Regions from separate parts of the Homo sapiens genome. Here region 1 is linked to region 2. A link means that fine-mapping ties the variant in region 2 to the expression of a gene that starts in the linked region. Tissue or cell type: cerebellum. Region 2 holds a variant in brackets; the other region holds the start of a gene. All regions are shown on one strand. Distances are between the middles of the regions.

Region 1 (10,157 bases), 50 kb before region 2:
TCTGCCATATGTTGGCAACAGATGTGACTCTTCACCTCCTATGCTTTCTTCAGGTGACTCCCAGTAAACTTCCTAGCTCTCCCTTGAAGCTACTATTGTCAAAGTTACCAGCAATTTCCACCTCTGTCTTTCCAGATCCACAGGTTAACTGTCATTATCATCAGCTTTTAGCAATATTTGCTGCAGCTGGCCACTACATCCTTCTTGAAACACTGTCTTCCCTTGGCTTCTCAGACACCATCCTCTCCAGGTTCTCCTCCTGTGTTATTTCCTTCTCAGCCTTTTGGATGGCTGCCTTCCTATCATCCACCTCTAAATTCAGCAGCTCCCATGAGCTCAGTCCTGGATACACTTGTCTTCTCTATATACACACTCTCTCTCATCTAATCCTAATTAGATGACCACACCTAATTCTATGTATTTAGATATAATGTATAATCTGATGAACTGTATTCCTATAATTGTATTTCCAGCCCTGATCTCTCTTTTGGATTCCAGCTGCCTACGTGGGGTGTCTAGTTGGATTTTCCAAAAGATATTTCCAATTCAACATGGCTACAATACAACTCTTGATTTTCTAACCATTTATCTCCCAGTGTTCCTAATCTCAGTTAAGGCATCAACATTCATTGGCCACTCAGTTTTCAACCTTAGAAGTCATTCTCGATCACTCCCTTGTCACCAGGAGCAACTTACACTCTGTTCCATAACTTATTCATTTGCAAGTTCTGTGGCTTCACCTCCAAAATATATCTGGTGTCCATACACTTCTCCCCATTTAAGCTACTTCTATTTCAGTCAAGATGGGCCATCGTTTCTTATTCAGAGCATATTGGCACAGACTCCTTGTCTCTTGCCCTCTCCCCAAACAAAATAAGCACCCTAGAGCAGCCAGTTATTTTGAAAGACAAAACTGTGTTACTACCTTACTTAAAACCTCCAACTAGTTTAAGTTGCACTTTTTTCTTTCTTTTTTTTTAATTACCACACTTAGTCAATGCTCCTATTAAGTTGCACTTTCTATAATAATTCCAATACCATAGCCTTCAAAGCCTTATGTGGTCTGTCCCAGACCTATTTCCCCAAGTTTTCTTGTATCACTGTATCCTTGTATCACTACACTCTTTCTTGTATCACTCTGTCCTGTGTTCCAATAATTCTGGCCTTCTTACTGTTTCTCAAGTGTGTTAGACTGAAAGCTCAGTCAAGGCATGGATTTTTGTGTTGTTTTTCCTTTTGTCTATAGTGTTAATTGACGAATCACAGAGCATCTAAGACAGTGCCTGGCATTTGGGAAGCATTCAATGAATATCTATTCAATAGAAGAATGAATATGTGCACGCCATACTAATTTTTTTGTTGTTCACCTCATGGTCTTTACTTTTGCCATTCTCTTAGATTGGAATGTTCTCCAAGATCTTAACATGGCTGGCTTTTTTTTTTCCCCCATAACTCAAGGCTCAGCTCAAATGTTAGTATCTTAGAGAAAACTTCTTTGGCACCCTATTTAAACTGCCAGCGTTCTCTGCCTTTGCATTTTCCTGGTTTACTTTGTAGCACTTATCATGACCTGGAGTTATTTCTTTTCTTCTTGTTACCTACACTAGAATAAAGCTGCATGACAGCAGGGCCTTTTTTGGTTGCTGTTGTTCCCTATTCTATCTTTATTGTTTAGAAAAATGAATGGCACACAGTACATATTCAATAAATACTTCTTGTATACCCCAGTGAGTGAATTTTACAGTGTAAACTTTAAAAATCATTTAAAAATCCACATAAAAAGCAAATTCCTGAGGTTCACTCCAGACCCTCTGAATAAAAACTCTGTGGGGAGGAATCTCCCTGCACATATTTATGTACTTAGAAGTTTTAGAACATTTCTCTAAAGCCATGAGAGTAACTCAGGCTCTTCAGTTTGAATAGCCCCATTCCCCATGGTGCGTTCTCTTTTGGGTTCTGTGGTGTTGTTTCTGGTCAGTGGACCTCAGTTGGGACCATCTCAGTTCATCAGCAAGGATGTAATGATGTTAAATCTAAAAGTGAGCCGTTCTTACTGAGGCCAGGGGTATGTGGAGTGGCAGCTTTTGCAAGGACACAGAAGGACCTGTCCAACCTGCGGCATTGTTCATCTACTCGTAACACTAAAAGGGAGCATTCAAGGGACTCTCTTAGCCAATATGATCTTTCCTTAGGCAACTGATTTCCATGTCTGTGTTGCCAGAGTAGGGCTACTAGTGTCTCTCACTAGCTATGTTAAGGTCGGCCTCATCTAAGTCCAGTGCCACCTGTACAGTGGTTTAAGGAAGAACAAGACACGGCCTAGATGTGAAGTTGTTTACAAAGCAGTTAACTGTCTGAAGTTTCTTCTTGTTGTTGTTTTGTTTTTTTAAAGACAGAGACTTGCTCTATCACCCAGGTTGTAGTGCAGTGGCACGATCACAGCTCACTGCAGCCTTGACTTCCTGGGCTCAAGTAACCCTCCTGCACAGCCTGCCGGTAACTGGAACCACAGATGTGTACTGCCATGCCTGGCTAATCTTTTTGTTTTTTGTACAGAGTCTCACTATGTTGCCCAGGCTGGTCTCGAACGCCTGTGCTCAAGCGATCCACCCGCCTCGGCCTCCCAAAATTCTGGGATTACAGGCGTGAGCCACCGCACCCTGTCACGAAGTTTAAAAAAAAAAAAAAGCTCTCTTTTCTTTCCACGTTGTTTCCAGCTATTTAAAGAAACAAAATGGTAGACTAGACGCAGTGGCTCACATCTGTAATCCCAGCAATTTGGAAGGCCAAGGCGGGAGAATCACTTGACGTTAGAGTTTGAGACCAGCCTGGCCAACATGGGGAAACCCCATCTCTACTGAAAATACAAAAATTAGCCGGGCGTGGTGGTGCATGCCTGTAATCTCAGCTACTAGAGAGGCTGAGGCAGGAGAATCGCTTGAACCCGGGAGGCAGAGGTTGCAATGAGCCCAGATCTCACCACTGCACTCCAGCCTGGGCAACAGAGCGAGACTCCGTATCAAAAAACAAAACAACAAAACAAAACAAAAAACAGTAAAGAGAATACTATTGAGTTAATTTTACAGTTTTTCACGCTGTGGGTGTTTTCTATTCTCGTCTTTTGCTTAGCTGTCCTGTCTCCCTCTTTTTCTCAGGCAATAGTTTAGGATTTTTGTAAGTTATATTGTCAGTACTTCTCATTTAAGTTCCAGACAGTGTGCTAAGCAAAGCACTTTACTCGGTAAAGTAAGAGCTCACTTAATCTTCAAAATAACGTAGCAAGGTAGATATCACGAACATAGCAAGGTAGATATCACCGAAGGGAAAACCGCTCCCCGAAGGTCCGAAGGTCCAAGGTCTCTCTGCCATCTAGCTGCCCTGCGTATTGCCTGCCAGTGGGTAGTTGGAGCTGGGTATCTCTCCAAAGCTGGGCTCTTGGCTGCCCTTTGTGAAGGCAATTTTAAGGGACAGCAGGATGTGGAAGCCTGCGGTTAAGGAGTGAGCTGAGTCACTGGGTAACCAGTGTTGAATAATGTTTCTCAATGTCTGAAATGACACTCACTTCCTTTCCAGATTGGTAGAGGAGAAAAAAGAGGCGCAGTGAAAGCGCTCTCAAGGTGCGGTGGGTCAGGGTGATAGGCGGCGCCCGGCCGCTCCCTGGGGGTCCTGAGGGCGAGACCCCGGCAGGCTCCCGACTCCGGGAGCCGGGCGGGAGTTCGGTTTTCGCCGGCGCTCCACGGCCAGGCCACTTCGGAGGCAATCTGTGGCGGGGCGGGCGGACGCGAGGGCCGCCTCACCCCCGCGCGTCTTCCGGGACACCGGGCCCTCGGGCGCGCGGGAGGCGGGCTTAGCACGGGCGCAGGCTGCCCTCGGCGCCCGAGACACCCAGGCACAGCTGGAAGCTTCCTCCCCGTTAGCACGCGGGCCGCAGCGGGGGCTTGACCCCAATGCGAAGAGTCGGGTTTTCTGATTGGCTGAGAGTAGAAACGCAGGCGAGCGCCGCCTGAGACCCGCTCTGCGATTGGGTTTTACACGAACAGCAGAGCACGAAATAAAGAGGCCTTCAGTCATTGGGCCATTATGTGAATCTCCTTTTGGCTTCTCTGCAGACTGAATAAGCGTCTCAGGATCTTCGTCATGACTCCTAAATCTGGGCCTGTCAGTTCGCCCCAGCGTTTCTCGTCTCTAGGCACGGCATGGGGCTTACAGAGTTTAACCAATCATATAACGTCGAGATCAGGTTGCCAGGCAGATTATGCTAATAAGACCCCGCCTTTTATGCTGCTCCCACTCTGCGGCGGGAAGAACCACCTGGAGGTGGCGGGGGGGGTTGATTTCTATCACCCCTAGGGAGAGAGGATCGGGGACCCGCTGATCTTCCAGCTCCCCTCACCCAACGTCGTGTAAGTACCTAAAGGATTAAGGGAACCAGATAAGCCAGGGTCCAGACTACCCCATAGACTGGGAGGGTGTTTCGTCTTTGCTTAGTCCCACCCAAAATGGCGCCCAGCTCTTTCCGCGTCTCAGAGCCCGGCCGGGGCCAACCGACCGCGGACCCGGGTGGGGGGGGAATTGATGGTGGTGGTGGGGGGGAGAAATCCCGGCGGCACCGCCCGATGGTACAGTCCAGCCGGGGCTGGGACGAGGCACCTCACTCGGGGTGGGGGGTCAAACCATCTGCACCTTCCAAGGGGAAGAGGGCAAGGCCCCCTCCAGCAGGCCCTCCTGGCGCCGCGTTCAGCGCCGGCCTCGGCGTCTCGTCGCCCCTGCCTTCGCCGCGCGCAGCCTCCCCCTGCGACCCCCGAGTGGCTCGCACGCTCCGCCGGCCGCGCGCACCTCTCCTCCCCTGCCCGCGTTGGTTGGGCCGGGACGGCGGTTGGGCGGCCTGCGCGCTCCGGCGGCGGCGGTTGCGCGGGCGCTCCGGGCGCGGCGGGCAGGTCTCCGCCGGCCGGGAGCCGAGCACCGGGGGCTGGGGGCCGGGCGCCGGGCTGGGGGTGGCAGTGCGGGCAGGGCTCCGGGGCTGGCCGGTTGCGGGCGCGTGGGGCGGAGGGTCCTGTTCGATGGGGCGCCCAGCTTTGTCTGCGGAGGCCGCGCCGCCCACTTGCCATCGATGGCTGGGCCCCCGGCCTGCCTTCCCAAGCTAGCGTCCGGGACCGGGGCGGGGGGCCGGCCCGCAGGGGTGTGGGGTGGCCCCTGCGGGTCTGTCCCGTGGCACCGCGTCGGGGCTGGCCGGGCGGAGGCGGAGGCCGAGGCCGGGGTCGCGGCCCTGCCCCAGTCCGCCTGCACCCAGGGTGCAGCGCAGAGGCAGGGCGAGGCCGGTCGGCGCTCGGGAGAGGGCTGATGGTGTGCACCTCTCCAGCCCCTCGCCAGCTTTTGTTAAGCAGGTTTAACCCTGCAGCTAGGTGTTGATACTCTACTAAGTAAAATGGAATATTCCCCGTCTGCCCTCCAGCCACGCGAACGCAGCGCTGTTGAATTTGTGTGCGCGCCTTTAGCCTTGCTTGGTGGATGAGTTGGATTTTAGTGCATTTTCAATCAATGTGCGTGTACACTTAAGCACAAGGAGAGGTGGCTTTGTGCTGTCATCGAGGATTAGATGTGTGATGAGACCCACCCAGCTCTGCCCTGTGCCCTAATTCTGCTGCTTTGCCTGTTGAAACCTTGCCTGTCTCGTCACCCCAAATTCTCTAAACTTAGCAGTACTTAACCTTTATTAAAAACAGCAGAATCACTCATGACTGTTTTGTGGCCTCTTTTTCTGACCTGTTCTCTTTGTTTCTATCACTCCTCCATCGCTGTAAGGCAAGAAGGTGTATTATTACATTGTATTTTTTTTGTATCTTCCTACCATTCCAGCATCACAATAGCTTCCACTTTGATGAGCAGTACTTATTTGTTGTTCTAGAATAGAGAAAACAAGATTTTTTTTTAAAATTAGGATTGGTTGGGGGCAAAGCAGCGTTTAAACAGTGTTTATTCAATATGGGGTATTTAGAAAGGAACTTTGCTAGGTTTATTTAGGAGACAGGGTCTCTGGTTGCCCAGGCTAGAGTGCAGTGGCGCGATCTTGGCTCACTGCCGACTCGACCTCCCGGGCTCAAGGGATCCTCCTGCTTCAGCCTCCCTAGTAGCTGGGACTACAGGCGTGCACCACCACGCCTGGCTAATTTTTCTACTTTTTGTAGAAACGGGGTTTCATCATTTTGCCCAGGATGGTTACGAACTGCTGAGCTCAAGCAATCCTACCGCCGCAGCATCCCTAAGTGCTGGGATTGCAGGCATGGGCCCCCGCGCTCGGCCTTTAGGTTTACTTTTACAATAAATTGAGGTGAAGTTGACACAGAATGAACCATTTTAAAGTGAACAGGGACGTTTAGTGAAAGGATTACATTTTTGTTTGTTTTGGATCAAGACAAATGTCTTGTGCCTTCTACCCCGTAAGCTCCCACTCTGCTATGCTGTTCCTCGTTTTGCAAGGCAAAATTGTTTTGCTTTTTCAAAGAATTCATTTTTAGTTTTTCTAATATTTTGTAGCATGCTCCACCACATATTAATCATATATTGTATGTCAATGTAATTGAGTATATATTTTAGAAAAAGCAAGGTTCCTGTCTTCAAGGGCTCTGAATGGTTTTTACTTAGAGGTTATGGAGGTATAAAGGATAGCACAACTCAATATAATCCCAAATTGATTGGCACTACCTAAGTTTCTGCTTGCCTGTTTTGTTTTTCCTTCTAGTTTTAAGAATAATGCGTGATCATTGGAGAAAACATAAAATTTAAGCCGGGCGCTGTGGCTCATGCCTGTAATCCCAGCACTTTGGGAGGCGAGGCGGGCAGATCACCTGAGGTCAGGAGTTCGAGACTAGCCTGGCCAACATGGTGAAAGCCTGTCTCTACTAAAAATACAAAAATTGGACGGACATGATGGCAGGCGCCTGTAATCCCAACTACTCGGGAGGCTGAGGCAGGAGAATCACTTGAACCCGGGAGGCAGAGTTTACAGTGAGCTGAGATCGGGCCATTGCACTCCAGCCTGGGCAACAAGAGCGAAACTCCGTCTCAAAAAAAAAAAAAAAAAATTTAGAAGCGAGTGAAAAAAAACAAAACCCATAATTACCCAGAGATAATCTTTGCTGATACTTTGGTGTATTTCAAGTTGGTTTTGTGTGTGTATAAAATATTTGTACAAACGACATAATCTTGGTTTAATATCTAGTTTTTAAAACAAGACGTAAATAGGTGTCTAAAGACTTTGCTGATGATTGGGCACTTTCATTACTTCCATTATTTGAAGGGGGCATCATGAAGTCCGCCGAACTAAAAGAATTATAATATTTTGATTTCTTGTAACTTTTTAAAAGCGTAATCTAATTGATAGGGATAGGCTTCTGGATAACAAACATAATTCATCAAAGGGCTGAGAAGTACTGAGCTATAATTTTGGTTTCCTCAATTTTTCATTTTAAGCACTGGTAAACACCTCGTAACCGCGTAATTATATCTGGTAAAAAGAAACTGTTAAACATCCTGTTGTTGCAGTGTTTGAGTTGTTCAGTTTGTTTTAAACTTGAACACTGATGTACTTTGACCTATTGCCACTAAAATACATAGTCTTCTCCCATCACATCCCACCCCAGATAGTGTAGCCACACCCAGTCCAGCAATTTGTTTTTCACAAGCAGAATTTATTGTCTACCATTTTAACTTATTATAGGTACTTTAATAGATTAATGAAGGAGAATTCGATCTGGTGTCTAGAAAGAGCCAAAAAGAAATGTTTGCTACAACCAAATCTTTGGAGAATGATCCCACTCAAATTCTCCTGGGGGATAGGTAGAGGCAGGAGGGTGAGAGGGGAACTTTTCGTGACTTATTTTGGCCCTCATTGGTGACACTTATCTCTTCGCTGTTCTAGCATTAAACTGTTCACGTGGTTTAGTTGAATCACTGCTTAGGAATATCTGGCCTCTTTTCTTTTTTATTCTTAATGTTATAACACAGCCGGGTGTGGTGGCTCACACCTGTAATCCCAGTACTCTGGGAGGCCAAGGCAGGCAGATTGCTTGAGTCCAGGAGTTCGAGAACAGTCTGGCCAACATAGCAAAACTCTGCCTCTACTAAAAACAAAAAAGTTAGCCAGGTGTGGTGGCCCACAGCTGTAGTCTCAGCTACTCAGGAGGATGAGGTGGGAGAATCACCTGAGCCCCGGAAGTAGCGGCTGCAGTGAGCCGAGATCACGCCACTGCACTCCAGCCTGGGCAACCAGAGTGAGACCCTGTCTCCAAAAAAAAAAAAAAAAAAAGTTATTACACCATTTCACCATTTCAAGACTTGTGTGGAGCACTCTGGCCATTTCTGTCCACCTTCCAAAATTTTTCTGTGCCTTTCCATTGACCATCCTTGTGTAGATTTTAAATTTGTGTTGTAGAAAGCACCTGAAGGTAGATTCTTCTTCTGTAACTTGAAATAGTTTAGGGAATGGGGAGCGGGTGAGGAAGTGGAGTGGAAAGAGGGAAGGTATGGGTAACCCTAAGTATAGTTACAGCAAGACTAGTTAAAATGTGGTGAAAACAATTATAAAATCAATAGTGCACAATAGTTTAGAACCTTATATGGATTGCTAAAAGGTTACTGTCTGCTAACATAGGCTGTAGTTTGCTATTCATTTTTTAGTTAAACTCTCGTTTATTGCAAACAGGAGAATATTGGAGTCAAATGCTCCTCCTCCTCCCCCCCTTTTTTTTTAACCCATGTCCTTCACTTTCACTGATGGTAAAGTTGTACTCCACAGCTTCTTTCCTGCTGTGATTTCTAGAAATCAGATCCCTTAGACCTGTGCTGTCCTGTCTAGTAGCCACCTGTGGTTTTGAGCACTTGAAATATGGCCAGTGCTGTGAAGTGTGAAATACATACACTCAGATTTTGAGATTTAGTAGAAAAAAATAATATCTTTCAATTTATAAAATATTGATTAAATGTTGAAATGACAATATGTTGAATAGACTGGGTAAAATGCAATATACTATTATAATTAATTTCACCTGTTTCTACTTTTAAACTATGTATACTAGAACATTTTAAATTATGTATGTGGCTTGCATATTTCTTTGAAAAGTGCAGCCTTAGTCAGCTAGGGGTAGGGTGTTCCCAGGTGGCATTAAGATGTAATATTTTTTGGTTTCTATAATTTGAATGAAAAGATACTGCTAATATGTAGATGTCTGTTTTTTTAGTGCTTATGATAGCTCTCACAAAAGCATGATTATTATTTTGAAGAATATCTTAATCTCAAAACCACTTCCAGATAATTGAGTTAACTGTTACTGAATTAATGTATTCAATGGATCATTTGAACTTAAAAGAATAAAATGACATTGGTAAGCACATAATCCATTAAAAAAAGTTGAGCTAAGCATAATCAGCTAAATTTTCCCAAACTTGGTCTGTTATTCAATACATTGATTTTTAGAATTTACCATTTTTCAAATGTTTAAGAGAAACCTGAAATTGAGAACATTGAACTTACATTTTTTTCTCCTGTGATTTAGAAAAAGACCACAATACTTTGATTCTAAAGGTGGAAGGAACCGTTTGGACCAGCTCGTGAAAGAACTGTCTTTTTTTTTTCCTTTTCTGTTTTTTGAGAAAGGCCCTCATTCTGTCACCTACGCAGGAATGCGGGGGCACCATCATAGCCCACTGCAGCCTTGACCTCCCAGGCTCAAGTGATCCTCCCACCTCGGCCTCCCAAGTAGCTGGCAGTACAGGTGTGTACCACCATGCCTGGCTAATTTTTGTATTTTTTGTAGAGACAGAGTCTTGCCACGTTGCCCAGGCTGGTCTGGAACTCCTGTGGCTCAAGCGATCCACCCATCTCTGCCTCCCAAAGTGCTGGGATTACAGGTGTGAGCCACTGCACCCAGTCGGGAGAACTGTCCTTTTAAACACAATTGGAGAAACATAACCTACACGTAAAATCCATATTTTTTTACTTCCACGTTTGCACCGTTGACAGTTTTGCCCTAAGCTGCCTTTATTGATGCCTTTCCTTTTACTGCCCTGTGTGGAGATTTTATATGGTGTAGTATTCACAGCGTTGCCTCAGGGGCAAAGAGGTTCACTGCTGTGCTCAGCTTGCTGGCTGTGATCTTGGG
Region 2 (10,157 bases):
GAAGATGTGATTTATTTCTTGACGCTAAATGCAATAAGGAGTTAGAGCATGGGTTCGTATATAGCTCTTCTCTACAGTTGACTAGGTTATGAATTTATTATTCCTAAGTATCAAGAACCAGGCCAAAAATGGCTCTGTGAAAACATACAGATTATTTCAGCTAAATATGTAAGAAAGGGTCCTGCTAAGCTTATTAGCTACCACTTCTTAATAACTTACTGATTTGCAAGGCTGTACTAGAAGCAAAGATGTTTACTGCCAAAAGGCGTACAATTATAGCTGCTTTTATTTTATTTTTTGCCAGTGACTTGCAGTATAGCTTCCAAATGAGTGACACCAATATCCCCCAACATATAAATGTTAATTTACATTGTTAGCACTTTACAATGTATAAAGTACTTTGAAATGTATATCTTTAACATCTAAATTCCATACTTTTATAGTAGCATCTTGGTAAGAAAAATTTGCCCTCATTTGATATTCAATAAAGAGGCTCAGATCACTCCCAAATAGAAATGAGGCCCGCCTAATTAGTGCCTTTCAAATCTACATAAGTATGAAATCACTGAAGACTTAGTGGTACTTTTGGAATACCCCTGCCTATATTAAAATAAGATTAGTTTATATAAGAATGTCCTGTGACCAACTTTCAGTTTATTACAATGTTACTAAATGTCTGAATTTGGATAATTTTTATTTTGTTTACTTATTTTTTATTTTTTTTGAGACAGAGTCTTGCTCTGTCTCCTAGGCTGGAATGCAGTGGCACAATCTCAGCTCACTGCAACCTCTACCTCCCGGGTTCAAGTGATTCTCCTGTCTCAGCCTCCCAAGCAACTGGGATTACAGGCACCCACCACCACAACAAGCTAATTTTCGTATTTTTAGTAGAGATGGTGTTTTGCCATGTTGGCCAGGTCTCGATCTCCTGACCTCAGGTGATCCGCCTGCCTTGGCCTCCCAAAGTGCTGGGATTACAGGCGTGAGTCACCGCGCCCAGCCAGATTTTTAAAAACTTTAGAAGAAAGGACATTTTGACATTTTTCTGGATTAGAGATATTAACTGTGGTGCCCTGGCTACAGTAGTTTCGAAGAATTTTCTCTAGTTAGCTTTGCTGCATCATGAGCCAACTTAGTTTATGATGATTAATTTTTTTTTTTAATTATGACTTTACTGACTATGTAGAAAAGAACTCATGGAACATTAAGTTCAATTTATTTTCCTTCTACTTCTCTTCTGATAATAAACATGCACTTACATTTGAAATAGCTGTAATCCTTGGGTATGTAATCCTCTTCTAGATGCCTGTCTATCTCCATCCATTTTCATTTCATCACAAGTCTACTCCCGTGAGCAGTGTTATGTGTGAACCTGTGAACCCTTGTTCATGTCATGTCTCTTGTGTTTTCATGAGATGCCTTTTTAATTAACTGTGACATTCAGTCCCAAGAAAGGCTTTGCTTACGAGTAAAATTGCGAAGTATGTTAGCCATTGGGATGGTTAGCTTATACAATCTCTTTGGAGCCATGTGAATGAAAAGCTTTAGCTAAATTTAAGATTACTATCTTTATTTTCTGTATTAATGAAAGCTTATTACTGGCTAAAATGGGAGTTAACTTTTCTAAAAATTGGTGCTTAGCAGTAGGATAATTTTTCTGTGTAGGCAGGCTATCCAAAGAGCTACTGATAATTTTTTGTTCGTTTGTTTGTTTAGACTCTGTTTACAGACCCCGGCCAGGTAGCTTATGTCCAACAGGATGCTACAGCTCAGCAGGTAACGAACTGCCTTTTTCTTGTTTGGGGATAACACTGTGAATGCCACTGCGCCTGGAATGCCCCATCCCTTTGCACTGCACCATCTCTGGATGTTTGTTTCTCATGTACTAAGAATGTTCTCCAGCTCCTTTAATGAAAACAAAGCAAAATGCAACATAATATTAACATATTTCAATAAGTATATACTGGAATAATCTGATAATAGAAAGTGATTTGTCAGAGAAATTTTTTAAAATAAGCATATAAACAGGGTATTTGTTCAAGTACCAAAGAATAATCATGAGGTTTAAAAGTGTCTCTTTTTTTGGAAATTGATATAGCTTTTGTACTTGCTCTATTTTTAAATACTGAAAAAAAATTCTTGCTTAAATTACATATAAATTTGGTTCCAATTTTCCTCATGCCAGCTTCTAAAAATTTGAGTTCTTCTTGGTTTTCTTTTAAAACATTTCTTTCCCATTACCTTCATTTCTGATATATCCTACTTGGCTTTGATGACTTCCTCCTTATTTCCTGCAAGAATGTGAAAGTGATAAAGAAGGTGTGGAAGCAGCTGGGCACAGAGGCTCATGCCTATAATCCCAGCACTTTGGGAGGCTGAGGTGGGAGAATCGTTTGAGACCAGACTGGGCAATATAGTGAGACCCCATCTCTGCAAAAAATTTAAAAATTAGCCAGGTGTGGTGGTGCACACCTGTGGTTCCAGCTACTTGGGAGGCTAAGGTGGGAGGATCCCTTAAACTCAGATGTTCAAGGCTGCAGTGAGCTTTGATTGCACTACTGCACTCCAGCCTGGGTGGCAGAGTAAGGCCCTGTCTCAAAAATAAATAAACAAAAACCAAATAGGTTTACTTTCATGTCAGGTAGTGTGACTGTAATTTGTCTATATTACTGAGTGCCATGACTGATTAATAATTAAATTATTCTCATTAAGAAGCACTTTCTGGCCAGGCATGATGGCTCACACGTGTAATCCCAGCACTTTCAGAGGCTGAGGTGGGCGGATCAATTGAGGTCAGGAGTTCGAGACCAGCCTGGCCAACATGGTGAAACCCTGTCTCTACTAAAAATACAAAAAACTTAGCCAGGCATGGTGGCGGGTGCCTGTAATCCCAGTTACTTGGGAGCCTGAGGCACAAGAATCACTTCAACCTGGGAGGTGGAGGTTGCAGTGAGCCAAGATTGTGCCACTGCACTCCAGCCTGGGTGATAGAGCAAGACTCCATCTCAAAAAAAAAAAAAATAAATAAATTAAATTAAAATTTAAAAGAAGAAGCACTTTCTGCTTTTTTATTTCTTGGTAGAAGATTTGTATGCTTCTATTTTAAAATTTAGAAAATGAACCCTAGTTATATTCATATCATCTGAAATATAGAGAAGTTTGTTAGGAGCCTTTTTTGTATAAGTTGGGGTTAAATTCATTCATGACTGGCAGTGAACGGCAATGTAATGGGGTCTTTGAACTTAAATGAGAATTGTTATTTATTTTAATAATTTTTTATAATACTTAGGTATATTCTTGACCCAAACCAACCTCATTTCTGTAAATACTTATTGATTCCATCAAGCAAGCAATGGATTATATATATATAATATATATATTTTTATATATTAGGATATACTATTATATACTTCATTTATTATTTTACATGTAGATTATTTCCTTTTTTTTTTTTTTTTTTTGCTACTATAAAGAATGCTGTCATGGACATCATATCAGATTATTTCCTTAGGATAAATACCCCAAAGACAAATGGTAGAGACAGAAGATATTTGTATTTTAAGTTAAGAACCAAATTTTTTGTAAAAGTGGAAAAACATACAAATATAAAAACCAAACCAATGAAATAAAAACCCAGAATTCTAAATTTGAATTGGAATATGAATATGGACTTATAATATGTTTTCTCTTAAAAAACATGTTTTCTGGCCAGGCACCTGTAATCCCAACACTTTGGGAGGCTGAGGCAGGCAGATCACTTGAGGCCAGGAGTTCGAGACCAGCCTGGCCAACATGGTGAAACCCTGTCTCTACTAAAAATACAAAAATTAGCTGGGCGTGGTGGCGCATGCCTGTAATCCCAGCTACTCGGGAGGCTGAGGCAGGAGAATCGCTTGAACCAGGGAGTTGGAGGTTGCAGTGAGCCGAGATCACACCACTGCACTCCAGCCTGGCAACACAGCAAGACTCCGTGTAAAAACAAAACAAAACACAAAACACACAGAAATGACGGCTGGGTGCAGTGGATCATGCCTGTTATCCCAGCACTTTGGGAAGCCAAGGTGGGCGGATCACCTGAGATCAGGAGTTTGATACCAGCCTGGCCAACATAGTGAAACTCCATCTCAACTAAAAATACAAAAATTAGTTGGGCATGGTGGTGGGCACCTGTAATCCTAGCTGAGTACTCAGGAGGCTGAGGCAGGAGAATCGCTTGAACCTGGGAGGCGGAGGTTGCAGTGAGCTGAGATCGTGCCATTGCACTCCAGCTTGGGCGATAAGAGTGAGACTCTGTCTCAAAAAAAAAAAAGACTAATTTTAATATTTTAGGTATAAGATATGCAATCTAAAAGTCATTTCATTGTACTCAACTATTTACAGATGAAAATGTATAATGTCTTGGTTTTGCTTCTCCCAATGAGGGAGGAAGTAGGTAGGAGATTAGTTGAAATAAGATTGGCCATGAATTGGCCAGGCACGGCGAATCACATCTATAATCCCAGCACTTTGGGATCCCCGAGACAGGAGGACCACTTGAGCCCAGGAGTTAAAGACCAGCCTAGGCAACATAGTGAAGACCCCTGTATGTACAAAAACTAAAAAAATTAGCCAGGCATGGTGGCACGTGTCTGTAATCTCAGCTACTCGGGAGGCTGAGGTGGGAAGATCACTTGAGCCTGGGAGGTTGAGGCTGCCATGAGCTGATTAAGCCACTCTGCACTCCAGACAGACATTTTGTCTCTTAAAAGAAAAGATGTTGATTGGCCATGAATTGATAATTGTTGAGCTGAGTTATGGATACATGAGGAATAAACCTCATGTATAATAAAATACTATTCTATTTGATATTTGTGTGAAATTATTTTGATAATTGATTTTCTAAATTGCTTTTCAGACACTGAAAATATTTGTATTCCCACCAACAGTATAGTATACAAGGGTGCCCCATTTCCACACACTCTTGCCACACTGAGTATTTGCATTCTTTTCAAATTTTGCCAATCCGATAGGCAAATTTTTGTTGTTTTAATATTAAGGGATAGTTTTAATTAAAGGCTTCGTTGCCATTTGCACTTCAAAGGGCCCTTCATCTTTTCCAATCTCCAGAAACAATCTGCTTGTTTCATGTTTTGCTCAAAAGGAAAGTTGTACTCAGCTCCACAAACCCTGACATTACAAGACAGTGTAACTATTGGCTTAGCATCTTTCTTCATTGTAGTTTCCTTTCCACCAGCACAGTTTTTATTTCTGGTTATAACACCTCAGTGGTTGTCAGTTTATCTGGTGACCTGGATAAATTCTGGATAGAAAGTTAGATTGAGGGTTGAACACAGAGGATGGTTTTTTTTTTTGGTTTTTGTTTTTTTCTTAGCCAAAAGGTTCCCATTATATTTTCAGTTGTTTTTAGTGGGGGCAGAATGTGCTTGAATCCTTTTTCATGTATGCATTCCCCCGTCCTTAAGAAAGGCATCAGTGGTCTCCAGGCATAGTCTCCTCTTTGTTTTTGAAAATGAACATGTGTGACTCCCCACACACTGAGAGGAAAATATGCTGCCCTGATAATTGGTCTCAGTAGGAATCAAGAAGCATTCTGTTGTGTGTGCTGCTGTCCAGCGTGGTCGTTTCATGTTTCACTTCTCAGATAAATTGTATCCTGAAATGCATTATGTCCTTTCAGAAATAATTACAGAGAGTGGTATTAAGTGGGAAGGAGAAAGTATACCGTAAGTTTATAGATTCTTTTTGCTTTTACTGTATTTTATTGTACATGACAAAATGCACAGGATTAAAATGGTTTTGCTTCAGACTCCTTTCCTCTAAGTGAAACAGACAGACACTGCTTGCCAACCTACCGCCTGGCTATGACCTCAGGGACATGTGTGGTTGGTTACCTTGTTGCCCAGGTATTCAAAGCGTGGGTGACGTTTACCGCTTCTGCTGCCCTCCTTGAATAGACTGAATTCCATAGGGCCATCGTGATGTAGTGGAAAAGGCAGTGCAGAGTCAGAATTTAGACTTCATCTCTGCCACTTAGGAGCGTTGTAACATCACCTGGCCTCAGAGGGATTCAAATACCTGCCTAGCACTC[A/G]GTAAACACCAGCTGAATTTGAATTTGTGGTTCATTAAATTTGTAATGCATGCCTGTTGTGTGTTAAGGTTTGTGTTGTCTAGAAGTGTACAGTTCTTATCTAGAAATGATGGTCAGCAGCTCTTTCCGTTCCTTTTCCACAGCAGTTTGCATGTTTCTGGTAAATATCCAAACTCCGCTTTTAGAGCCAGCCTCTAAAGATGCTGCTGGAGTGTTTAAGCATTTCCTTTTGCCACAGTCTGTTAGGAAAGAGGTCCAGCATGGGGAAGTGAAGGCCGGTTTTATCTTGATGTCAGCTTTCTCAGCAGTGGCAAGAAGCCAGTCACGTTGCCAAACCGGTGTCTTTCTGACAGCATCTGTTGGGAAAAAAATACATCGCGGTTTTACTAGAATAACTGAATTGCTGAATTCATTCTTTCAGGTTGGCTCTGCAGAGCGAGTTTATGAGGAGTAGAGGTGTACATATGCTTTGGTTTGTTCAGTATGTGATAACATTTATCACTAACCCTGGCATAATGCTTAAGCGCTTAGGACAAGGGGCAGTATTGTAAGCTGTGCTCTGAGATGGGGAGCAGGAATACAGTCACTTCCTTGCAGGTTCTGGTGAGGAGGTTGAGGGGGAGGTGGCCACAGCAGCTGCACTGCTAGAAGTTCCCTGTGGAGTCCTCACCCTCACAGGGCATTTTATGCTGTTTTTATTGAAGCTGAGGCAGAAGCGTCTTCCAGAATTTGGCTTCCCCCGTAAAACTTTCTAAAAGACCCTGAATTGCAGAAGTGGAATGTCAGGCAAAAGTCAAATGAGCATGTGTTAAGTGTGCGGATGCAGTTTGAGATAACCGGTTTGATCTGCTTTCTGGAGACAGAGTGTTTCAAATGTTGGGTAACGCTCTTACACAGCCGTTGCAGGTCAGGCCCTCAATAAACACACTCAGTACCGTTTCTTTAGAGTTCTTTTTTTATTATTATTTGAGACAGGGCCTTGCTGTGTCACCCAGGCTGGAGTGACACCATCACAGCTCACTGCAGCCTCAACCTCCTGGGCTCAAATGATTCTCCCATGTCAGTCTCCTGAGTAGCTGGGACCACAGGCACGTGCCACCACTGCCCAGCTAAATTTTGTATTTTTTGTAGAGACAGGGTTTCACCATGTTGCTCAGGCTGGTCTCGAAATCCTGGGCTCAAGCAATCCTCCTGCCTCAACCTCGGAGAGTGCTGGGATTACAGGCATGAGCCATCACGCCTGGCCTCTTTTTTTGGGGGGTGGGGGGGTGGAGTTTCGCTCTTGTCACCCAGGCTGGAGTGCAATGGCGTGATCTCAGCTCACTGCAACCTCCGCCTCCTGGGTTCAAGTGATTCTTCTGCCTCAGGCTCCCGAGTAGCTGGGATTACAGGCACCCGCTACCATGCCCAGCTACTTTTTTTTGTATTTTTAGTAGAGACAGGGTTTCACCATGTTGGCCAGGCTGGTCTCAAACTCCTGACCTCAGGTGATCTGCGCACCTTGGCCTCCCAAAGTGCTGGGATTACAGGCATGAGCCACCATGCCCAGCCACACCCAGCCTCTTTTTAGAGTTTGATAAGTTCTTCGATTAAGATGCACAGCAGAAAAAGGATGTTTCTGTGAGTACTGCAAAGACTTCCTCTAGATGCCTGAAGGGATTGGTGTTATTTCCCAAAAGGCCAAATATATTTCAACAAATTAATCTTCATTGAACACCTACTTTATGCTCAGCGATCTTTTAAATTTGAGGAGGAAGTATATGATATCATCATGGTCCTTAAAGAACTTAGGATAATAATGATTAATACTAAGCAGTTACTAAATGCTATACACTCTGCTACTGGCCTTATATACATATTGTTTCACTTAATACAACAACCTGAGGCATGTATTACTGTGTCCATTTTACAGACAAAGAAACTGAGGTTCAGAGAAGTGTAGTAACTTGCTAAGGGGTGGGGCAAGGATTTTACTCTAAATGCCTGACTCCAAAGCCCATAGTCTATTTCCCTGAGGTGCAGTTGGAGAGGCAAGATGGACTCATGTGAAAACGCATACTCATCACCAAAATAGATGGTGTTTGGCAATGGATGCAAAGCTGTGGGGATAGTTAATGTGTGAGATGTCTGGATCTGAAGTCTAAAGATCTTGGCAGATGGGAAGAACAGATAAAAGCAGTGAAATGAAATTTACTGGAGATAAATGCAAAATCCCCCATTTAAGTAAAAATCAGCTCTTGAAGTCCTGATGAGGGGAAAAATGGTTTAATAGCACTCTATGAGGGGAAAAGAGGACTTAGATATTTTAGTTATCTGCAAGTTCAGGATGGGTCTGCAGTAGAGCAACGTGGCCAACGTAAACACTAATGCACCCTGATGTTGTATTAATAAAAATATGGAATCCACTGCGAAATAAATGAAGACAACAAGATGATTAGGGAGCTGGGAGTTTGGTCATGTGAGAAATGACTGAATGAATTAGGGTTTTTTGGCCTTCAGATATTTGATTCTTGTGGCGGAAGGGTTACACTTATTCTAGCTACCTCCAGAGGAAAGTCCTGGGCCCTAACCAAAGCGTGGAAGATCTGGGCTCCACAGAAATTGTCATAGAACTATTTCAGAATGATTCAGGCTGCCTGGTGAGGTCATGAAATGTGGAAGCAGATGCTGAGTGCTGTTGTGGAGTGGGATTCTATGGCTCCAAGGGCTGCAGGAGTTCAGAGCAGAGGAGACTCAGGGAGGGCTGGAGGCATCAAAGGCGGTTCACTGGGAAACTGGAATGTGGTAGGATTTAGAAGGTGGCTGAGGAAAGAGTATTTTAGGTGAGGAAAACAACATATGAGAAGATAAAGGGAGTGGCATTTTTAAAAACTTGCTTTATTTATTGAATAGGACATGGCTTGAGTATGACCTTGTGCTAATTGGGCAGGAGGAGCAAGATTGCATAAAGGGATTCTAGGCCAGTGTATAATCCCATAACACTTAGATTGGAGGCAGGAGAACTTTTTAAGGTACCATTTTTATTTTCTGCCAGGATATTTGATAAGATAGCATTAACCTAATACATGACCCAAACTGTGTCTTATTTGCAGGAGACTGACTTCAGCATGATGAAACAAACAGGCACCTCATCTCTTTCATTCTTACTTAAAAACCTCAGCCTGCCTGAGCTGTTTAAAAGGAGAGCTGTGAGCTATGGAACTTTGTTAACCATGTGTTGCACGACGTGTTTAGTTTTAAAAGACAAGTGGTTGAGGATAGGTCAACTCATTTACCCCCTCCAGTGTGGTATGGCTACTCTGGAAAGGCAAGAGGGACCCCCACCCCAGGTTTAGTTCAGATGTGGAAACTGATGATACCTCACATGTGCACACATCGAAACGGTCTGTTGCTTACCTATTTGAAGTCTTGGGAGACAGGGCAGGCCTCTCAAGCAGTGTGAAACGGCTGAATGAGCCAGGAAGAGACCAGGTTTTATTAAGTTTTAGGGGTGGGGTCAGGACGCAGGTGGTCAGGGCCTTGCCAGTGTTGACTCTCCCACTGCTGCCAAAGGAGGGAGCACCTGAGCCTTCTTAGCAGCCCTCCCAGGTGTGGGACAGAAGGGGCAGAGGGAGGGCAGAGGCTTAAAGGCTGTGAGCAGTCAGATCAAAAATGAAGCCAGCTCTTCCTCACAGCCGGTAGATGGAAGTCATTTTTCCAGGGCCTGGAAGGAGTTGGTAGGAAGACTAGATTTCAGCCAGCCCTTGCGCCCTGTTTGTGCCAGCAGGCACCAGCGAACCAAAAGCAGGTGTCCATGTCTGCTTACTCTGTGCCTTCAACTTTTGCCCAGGCCTCATTGCCAGTTCATAACCAGGTGCTGCCTTCCATCGAGAGTGTAGATGGGTCCGACCCTTTGGCAACTCTGCAGACCCCTCTAGGCAGACTGGAGGCCAAAGAGGAAGAGGATGAGGATGAGGACGAGGACACTGAGGAAGATGAGGAAGAAGACGGTGAGGACACGGATCTGGATGACTGGGAGCCAGACCCGCCCCGGCCCTTCGACCCACACGACTTGTGTAAGTGTGGGCAC

Which allele goes with the higher level. Positions count from the first base shown, and alleles are read on the strand shown. Sizes are in standard deviations (SD) of each study's normalised expression.
For the expression in cerebellum of the gene that starts at base 4,290 in region 1, allele A in region 2 goes with a lower level than allele G (large effect, 2.1 SD a copy in GTEx).

Evidence for each region. PIP is the estimated chance that this variant, and not a neighbour inherited with it, causes the effect.
Region 1: it holds the start of PRDM10, and the variant in region 2 is fine-mapped to the expression of PRDM10 in cerebellum (GTEx, PIP above 0.99). The same link has a PIP of 0.9 or more in cerebellar hemisphere.

The regions. Positions count from the first base shown.
Region 1 is chr11:129,996,968-130,007,124 of GRCh38, reverse strand. It overlaps PRDM10 (PR/SET domain 10), which reads left to right and starts at 4,290. Exons shown (of 21, transcript NM_199437.2): 1 at 4,290-4,403. PRDM10-DT (PRDM10 divergent transcript) reads right to left here and starts at 4,501. Exons shown (of 1, transcript NR_024233.1): 1 at 1,639-4,501. RefSeq lists a cis regulatory region at 1-234, silencers at 3,567-3,956, 4,667-4,986, 4,997-5,046, 5,077-5,256 and an enhancer at 4,067-4,156.
Region 2 is chr11:129,947,131-129,957,287 of GRCh38, reverse strand. PRDM10 (PR/SET domain 10) reads left to right here. Exons shown (of 21, transcript NM_199437.2): 4 at 1,717-1,776; 5 at 9,918-10,143. Among named protein-coding and RNA genes, the nearest start is that of PRDM10-DT, 50 kb to the left of the region's middle. The variant A/G (reference allele first, on the strand shown) is at 6,089.